2 separate regions of the Homo sapiens genome follow, and region 1 is linked to region 2. The links come from fine-mapping of genetic effects on gene expression. A gene starts in region 2. The other region holds a variant in brackets. All regions are shown on one strand. Distances are from middle to middle. Region 1 overlaps ADAM17 (ADAM metallopeptidase domain 17). Region 2 holds the start of ADAM17 (ADAM metallopeptidase domain 17).

The links. PIP is the estimated chance that this variant, and not a neighbour inherited with it, causes the effect. A credible set is the group of variants that fine-mapping cannot tell apart.
Region 1: its variant is the best candidate, but not a certain one, in a credible set for the expression of ADAM17 in whole blood (TOPMed, PIP 0.52).

Annotation. Positions count from the first base shown.
Region 1 is chr2:9,527,572-9,531,844 of GRCh38, forward strand. It overlaps ADAM17 (ADAM metallopeptidase domain 17), which reads right to left. Exons shown (of 19, transcript NM_003183.6): 5 at 215-383. Among named protein-coding and RNA genes, the nearest start is that of ADAM17, 26 kb to the right of the region's middle. The variant G/A (reference allele first, on the strand shown) is at 2,273.
Region 2 is chr2:9,553,190-9,557,462 of GRCh38, forward strand. ADAM17 (ADAM metallopeptidase domain 17) reads right to left here and starts at 2,641. Exons shown (of 19, transcript NM_003183.6): 1 at 2,320-2,641. The coding sequence starts at 2,416. RefSeq lists silencers at 1,651-1,945, 2,560-2,849, 3,080-3,299, 3,271-3,565.

The sequences.
Region 1 (4,273 bases), 26 kb before region 2:
CTAATCTCTGTTGTTCCCATTATTTTCCAGAGTTTTCAACTCTTACATTATAAACAAAAGAAGATGAAAATTTCTGGAACAAACCTCTTATTTTCATGCCAAATACTATAGTTACTTGACAATCATGTTATTTTTTAACAAATAACAACCACCCCTACTGAAGTCAATTGTAGTATGTTTGTTTCTTATTTGAAATACACTCTTTAAGTCTTACCTTCAGGTGGTTCTCTGTCTACTAACCCTTTTGGGAGCAACTCTTCATTATCCACTTTTAAATAACCACACACTTTTGGAGACTGCAAACGTGAAACATTCTTGATATCTTCAGATTTATAAACTAACATTCTTTTGTCTTTGGTATCATTAACAAATCTCCAAAGTGGCTAAAACAGAAAATATATACGACTGAGATGGAAAACAATAATAATTCCTAAACACTAAATTCTTCTAACATTCTTTGCTTGTTCTTAGATAACATTCATTTCTAGGTTAAGTAAACTGATTAGTCATGTTATTAAAATAAATAATCTCAATTTTTAATCATATGGAGTTTCTATGCAGGAAAGTAAATACATAGATTATAAACTCTGATTATTTTATCTGTATATAAATAAAGCCTTACATACTTTGCACGTTGTGAAATCTTTCAGAGGATGCAGAAGAGAAAAATGCATATCATTTTCCACTCATTCATTCAAAAATATTATGTAATATCTACTGTACACTGGCACTGTTATAGGTGATGGTGCTATAGTAATGAAAATTGGACAAGGTTTCTGTTCATGCAGCATTTTCATTTTAGTTTCCTTAATACTTAGGTGTTTGACACCTTTTTGCCACGTTAGGTTTTATCCACACAAAAGAACAAACATATTTATATGAAAGAAAACTCAGAACTTGTAACAATAGGTCTGAACCTTATTACTTGTTTCAGCGAACGCAGTTTTTAAACAAAATCTCCACTTACAATGTTACAAGGCCAGAGTAAATCACAATTAACATACTCCAAAGGTTACCCAAGTCAAAAGGCTGTTTGTTTGTTTTGTTTCAAAGCAAAGTTATTCTCTGTAAGAACACTGGTCTCATCAGAACCAGGCAGTTTGTGGGGGGACACACAAAAAATATATTTATCTCCATCAGGGAAATGCAAATCAAAACCCCAATGGGGAAAAAAACCCCCACAATGAGACACCCCTGTATACCCACTAGGATGACTATGATCAAAGACAAATACTGGTGAGGATGTAGAGAAATCCAGAACCCTCACATATGCTGATGAGAATGTAAAATGGTAAAACCACTTTAGAAAACAGTCTGGCAGGTCCTCAAAGGTTAAAAGTAGAAGTACCATATGACCCAGCAATTCTGCTCCTAGTATATAACCAAGAGAAATGAAAACACAAGCAGTAATGTAAATATAGCTAAAAAGTGGAAACAACCCAAATGTCCATCAACAACTAATCAATGAATAAACAAAATGCAGTTTATCCATACAATGGAATACTATTCAGCAATAAAAATAAATAAGATACAGATACATGCTACAACACAGATGAACCTTGGAAACATTATTCTAAGTGAAAGAAGCCACACACAGGCTGGGCGTGGTGGCTCATGTCTTTAATCCCAGCACTTCGGGAGGCCGAGGCAGGTGGATCACTTGAGGTCAGGAGTTTGAGAACAGCCTGGCCAACATAGTGAAACCCCGACTCTAGTAAAAAATACAAAAATTAGTCAGGCATGGTGGCAGGAGCCTGTAATCCCAGCTACCTGGGAGGCTGAGGCAAGAGAATCAGTTGAACCCAGGAGGCAAAAGTTGCAGTGAGCTGAGATCATGCCACTGCACTCCAGCCTGGGTGACAGAGCAAGACTCCATCTCAAAAAAATAAAAAAATTGAAGCCACACACAAAAGACATGTTATGTAATTCCATTTATATGAGATGACCCAAACAGACAAATCTAAATAGACAGTAGATCCCTGGTTGCCTAGAGCTGGGGGAGTTAGGGAGGAAGGGGGAAGTATGGCTAAAGGATACAGCGTTTCTTTTTCAGGTGATAAAAATGTTCTAAAATTGAATGAGGTGGTGTTTGCACAACTCCATCAATATACGAAAACTGCCGGGCGCGATGGCTCACGCCTGTAATCTCAGCACTTTGGGGAGGCCATGGTGGGCAGATAACTTGAGTCCAGGAGTTCGAGAACAGCCTGACCAACACGGTGAAACCCCATCTCTACTGAAACACAAAAATCAGCCGGGCATGGTGGTGGGC[G/A]CCTGTAATCCCAGCTACTCAACAGGCTGAGGCCACAGAATCACTTGAACCCAGGAGGCAGAGGTTGCAGTGATCGTGCCACTGCACTCCAGCCTGGGTGACAGAGTGAGACTCCATCTCAAAAATACACACACACACACACACACACAAAACTACAAAATTGTATACATTAAGTGGGTGAATAATATAGTATGTGAATTTTATCTCAATAAAACTGTTAAATATTATATGCATATACATCTTTGGTAATCCATGTATGAGGCAGATGTAAGAAACAAGGGTTACAGAATTTCAGGGTTGGCAGAGATCTCAAAAGTTAACTAACCCAACTTCCGGGCTACAGGAATCTTCCATATTTAGTAAAGTTCATTTAGCCTATGAATAGGAGTGAAATTTTTTTTCTTTTGGGTCAAACATTTCTAAGTTCACATTGATTGTTTCCTAGTATAGTCAGTCCAGCACAGAAAAAGACAGCTGGCTTTGGGATCAGATATATCTGAGTTCAAACCTCAACCATACCTCACTATGTGCCTTGGACAAGTACCCTGAGCATAACCTCCCTCATTAGGTAAAGTAGTGATAATACCTAACTTGAAGATTATGAAGATTATGTAGGTAATAAATCTAGTTTTATATTAACATTTCAAAAGAAAAGTGGTTGTTATTAATAAAAGCTAAGGCTATTACCATTATTACTAGTAAGTTGCTGGAAAAAATAATTTGATGAGTAATTGACTAAAAGGCAGAAAACTGGATTGGATCCTGGACTGGAAAACCAAAAAAAATCTACAAAGGAGATTTTGAGGATGACTAGAGATTTTGACTATGGCATGATTATTAGATAATATTGTAGAATTCTTGTCATTTTCTCAGGTATGTTACTTTTATTACAGCTATAGAAAAGAGTGCCTTTATTCCTAAGGATGCATACAGAAGTATTTAGGGGTGAAGGGTCATGATGTTTGCAAATGATTTTCATATGATTCACGAAAAAAAGAGAGAAAGCTAACAGGACATTATGTTAGAAATTGTTTAAGGGCTACAGGGTATTTTTTAAAAAAATCTTTCTGTAACTACAGGGTACTTTTTAATCTTTCTGTAGATTTGCACATTTTCTTTTTTATTTTTTTCTGAGACAGAGTTTCACCCTGTCACCCACATTGGAGTACAGTGGAGCGATCTCAGCTCACTGCAACCTCTGTCTCCCAGGTTCAAGCGATTCTCCCACCTAGGCCTCCCGAGCAGTTGGGATTACGGGCGCAAGCCACCAAGCCTGGCTAATTTTTGTATTTTTAGTAGAGACGAGGTTTCACCATGTTGGCCAGGCTGGCCTCGAACTCCTGGCCTGAAGTGATCCACCCACCTCAGCTTCCCAAAGTGCTGGGATGACAGGCATGAGCCACTGCACCAGCTGAACATTTTTAAAACTAGAAGCTGGGGGAGGCCAAGCATGGTGGCTCACGTCTGTCATCCCAGCACTTTGGGAGGCCGAGGTGGGCAGATCACAAGGTCAGAAGTTCAAGACCAGCCTCACTAACATGGTGAAACCCCGTCTCTACTAAAAATACAAAAATTAGGCCGGATGCAGTGGCTCATGCCTGTAATCCCAGCACCTTGGGAGGCCGACGCGGGTGGATCACCTGAGACCAGGAGTTCAAGACCAGCCTGGCCAACGTGGCAAAACCCTGTCTCTACCAAAAATATAAAAACTAGCCGGGCACAGTGGCGTGTGCCTGTAATCCCAGCTACTTGGGAGGCTGAGGCAGGAGAAATGCTTGAACCTGGGAGGCGGAGACTGCAGTGAGCCGAGATTGCGCCACTGCACTCCAGCCTGGGCGACAGAGCAAGACTCCATCTCAAATAAATAAATAAAAGTTGGGGGAAATATTATCTCACTATGCAAGTTTAACCCAGGATTATTTATATAAATAGTAAGCTATGGTAAAGTCAGTGACGGTTTAAAATATTTAACGGCTGCGCACAGTGGCTCACACCTGTAAT
Region 2 (4,273 bases):
CTCTAAGATTCATTTGGTGATAACACTTGCTATAACGTACTCTAGCACTCTCCTCTATGCTGTTTTAGAAGTGTCCTAAATGAATGTCTATTTCCCTATGCTATAACCATTTGAAGATGGATATCGTCTGATCTTTGTATTTCCAATGCCACGTATAATACTTGTGTGTCCTTCAAATATTTCGTTTAAAAAAAAAAAAAGAGGCCGGGCCTGGTGGCTCAAGCCTTTAATCCCAGCACTTTGGGAGGCCGAGGTGTGCTGATCACCTGAGGTCAGGAGTTCGAGACCAGCCTGAATAACATGGAGAAACCCCATCTCTACTAAAAATACAAAAAATTAGCCGGACGTGGTGGCACATGCCTGTAATCCCAGCTACTTGGGAGGCTGAGGCAGGAGAATTGCTTGAACCCGGGAGGCGGAGGTTGTGGTGAGCTGAGATGACGCCATTGCACTCCAGCCTGGGCAACAAGAGCAAAACACTGCCTCAAAAAAAAAAAAAAAGAAAGAAAAAGAAAAGAAAAGAAAAAAGAAAAGTCTATGCATTCTTCTGGCACAGGTGGTCTGCATTTTGCAAATAAAAAACAAACACATGGGCCAGGAGCGGTGGTTCATGCCTGTAATCCCAGCACTTAGGGAGGCCCAGGTGGGCGGATCACGAGGTCAAGAGTTCTAGACCAGCCTGGCCAACATGGTGAAACCCCGTCTCTACTAGGAATACAAAAATTAGCTGGGCGTGGTGGCACATGCCTGTAATCCCAGCTACTCAGGAGGCTAAGGCAGGTGAACTGCTTGAACCCCGGGAGGCGGAGGTTGCAGTGAGCTGAGATCGCGCCACTGCACTCCAGCCTGGGCAACAGAGCAAGACTCTGTCTTGGAAAAAAAAAATGGTCTAAAAAACCTTACGATCTGCAAATGTTATGAATTGATCTAGAAAGTAATGTTTCTCTTTAAACTGTATGCTTCCTTGGGACTCATGCTTATTTTTACCTACGAACAACAGATTAATAACATAAGTGAAACAGTTGTGTCAGGGTGGTGCAAATATAATTTTAATATCTCAAAATACATATTTATTCTTTTTACTAACATTTATCCTTAAAATGAAGACCCTTACCCTATCCCTCCATCCTAACCACAATCCTACCTCAAAATGTCCTTCAATTTGTACTGACTTACCACTTCTCAGCACTTCCTAACAAGATCCCTTGCCTTTCATTAGTCACTTGTAATCCATTTCAATCGGAAAGAATCATAAGACAGCTGTTCAAGTGATAACACTCTCAACACCTTTAGTATCCATACCAATCCATTACAATTTCTGTCCACTAAATATAAAGAAAAAAAATACTACACATGGTATCATGGTGAAATTTGGGAACCAGTACAACCATGCAAGCCTACAATTTCACACACTGGGAAAACATTATTTCACACTTTATTACTAATTAAAGTATCTTACACGTCAATTTTTGAAAGATAAAAGGATTTTAAAATACACTAAAAGTTCACGCAAACTTACTTCCACCAAAGTTCAGATCCCTTAATGCATCTCCATCCTTAAAATCCAATCTCTCTGGAAAATCTAATGAAATAGGAACCCTCTACTTTCTAGCCTCTAAATTCATCAAACTCGTCACTCTTGATAATTTCTTTGTTTAAAAGTGCAAGGAAAGCATTCATAGTGGCAGCATCACGAGTTGGCTTACCAGGTTTCCGCCTCCCCCCATCTCCCAAGCACCTCCAATAAGCTACAATTGAAATAACCAAGAACGTGCTTAGGATGTTCGCAAAAACACAACTCTTAAGACTCCAACTCCAGTCTCCGCCTCCCAACGAGATTACTGCATAAGTACCTCCTACAGCAGAAATTCTAGTTCCCTCCTTCGAGGACCAGGAAGAATTCTGGAGCTTTGGGCCCTTCCTTTCTGGCTCTGGTAGGAACACACAACACTAGATTTGTTCCCTACTAAGGCAAGAACCCTGACCACATCTCCCTCTCCAAACAAGATCCAGCCACCCTACTCCTTACCGCTTTCCCAACACCCTCCCCGAACACAAAGCTAGGGAGCAAACCCCTCTCAGGCGCTCAGTCACTACATGGAGCCCGTCCAGTAGCCCTTTCCCACTCAGAGACAGGCCCATCTCCTTTATTCTTTCCCCAAACTCCGAGAGCCACACCCCCTTCTACACTGAAAACTTAGGGACGCGCCACCATCGCCAATACCCCGCCCCCAAACACCTGATAGACCCAGCTCCCCTGCTCTTCCCTCAAACGAGCGCTCCAGGCGCCGGCCTAAGCCAACTCCCCTGGGTCTTTACCGAGTCTCTGGTGGGGGCCGAAGCCCGGGTCATCCGGAGGTCGCGGCGCCAGCACGAAAGGAACCACGCTGGTCAGGAATAGGAGAGACTGCCTCATGTTCCCGGCCCCGCTACCGACTCCACCTCTCTGGGCAGCCTTCGCCTGACGGGGTTTCGGAAAACTGCTCACATCGGGGGAGGACGGGATCCGCCCGGCCTAGCCCCTCAATCCTCTTTTCCCTCCCGCGCCGCCTACTGGGAAGATTCTACCGCCAGGCTCGACGCCCCCAGAAGTGCAGGTGGCGTTACCAAAGGCCGGCTCAGCCAGCTTCCGGCCGCCGCTGTCCCCCGCACCACCCACAGCCGGAAGCCGGCTGCCGCGCGGCATCCCGGGAGGCTCCGCTTGCCCCGCCCCACGCCGGTGCGCCGCGGGCCTCTGGTCCGCTGCCGTGTTCGGCCCCGCCCGTCACGTCTAGCTGGGGCTCGCCCGGCGCCTTCCTGGACGCAGACGTATGAGTCCCAACTCCACCCAGTCCGGCCTGGCCTCTGTCCCCGGGTGACCGCGGAATGGGGGGGCGGGAGCTAGCGAGCAGGCCCTCAAGCGCGTCTGGCCGCCTCCTTTGTCTTGATGCCCACGTCTGGTTAGGACCCCTGCTGTCCATTTTATTAAAGGAGCTGTAGAAAGCGGCCTGGGGCCCAGCGACCTGCCCAGGGCGGACGAGGAGGCGCGACTGGCCCGATGCCGCAGGCTCTCTGCCCAGTGTGCTCAGGTGGGAGGGCGGGGACATGAATCGAGCCACAGAGTGCCCTGGGCACGGACCCCCCGCCCCCCCCGGCCCCGGGCCCCGAGCCCCGAGCCCCGAGCCCGGCCACCGAAGCCCGTGCCACTCGCCAGCTCCTGCGAGACGAGCCTTTCGAGCGCAGCTCAGGCATTTGGTTCAGGGTCCTACTGCCGGAGTCGTCTGAGGCCTCCATCCGTCTGTCGTCACGAAAAAGGTTTTGGGGGGACTAATAAGCACTTCCTGAATGCACATTTGCTCCACGCCCCTGCTGTAGGGAGAGGGTCTGCAGACACTTCAACAAATAGAATCCTAGGACCTTACCTGTGAGTACAAGAGCTGGAATCTTCCCACCAACTTCTTAAAATTCAATCCTATACTTGGTCCATTTAGCTTAGACTGGAAATTTCCCAAGGCAGTTTGTTTTGCAATCTTTTGCATGATTTTAGCTCTGTATAGTTTAGTGAATGTTTATGGTACTGAATAAAACAGTCTAAAAACGTTGGGTACATGTTGCTGTTTTATTTAGTTCAACCAAAGTTTATAAAAGTAGGACATAATACGTTTTCCACTTAAGAGTGAGACAGCCTTTATTATGAAACGGTAAATTGTTAGGAATACTAGTCCTATTCAAGTTTCAAGGCTTATTCCTAATAAAATACTCAAACTGTGGTTAAAATTTATGTTAATGGTGGTTTGCCGCAGTAAAATATCAGCGTCTTTTTCAACAATACATTGTTGGCTAAAATTAACCGGACCTGGTCTGTACATCTGAAGTATAAAATATCTTTATTAAACATACCCATTAGTGGCATACCTAGTCAAAAAGTAAGCAGAATTTCACATGCAAATTGTATACAATCTGTAAAAATTGTATTCCATAAGAATGTGACAGTTGAGTACGGTTTTTGGGGGGCTTTTTTGGTGTACCATAATAATGTCATCTGGTTTCTTTTCTGAACATCCAGTCACCATAATGTCCGGCTTGTAACTTTAGTAGATCGTAGATTGTATTATTTTGGTATCCCCAACAGCTCTTGTACAGTGCCTTGCTCATAGAAGGTACTTAGCTGTTTAGTAAATGCCGTTTAAAAAAAAAATCCCGATCCATTTTCTTTTCTTTTTTTTGGGGGGGGGTGGTGGGGGAAAGAGTTTCGCTCTTATTGCCCAGGCTGGAGTGCAATGGCGTGATCTTG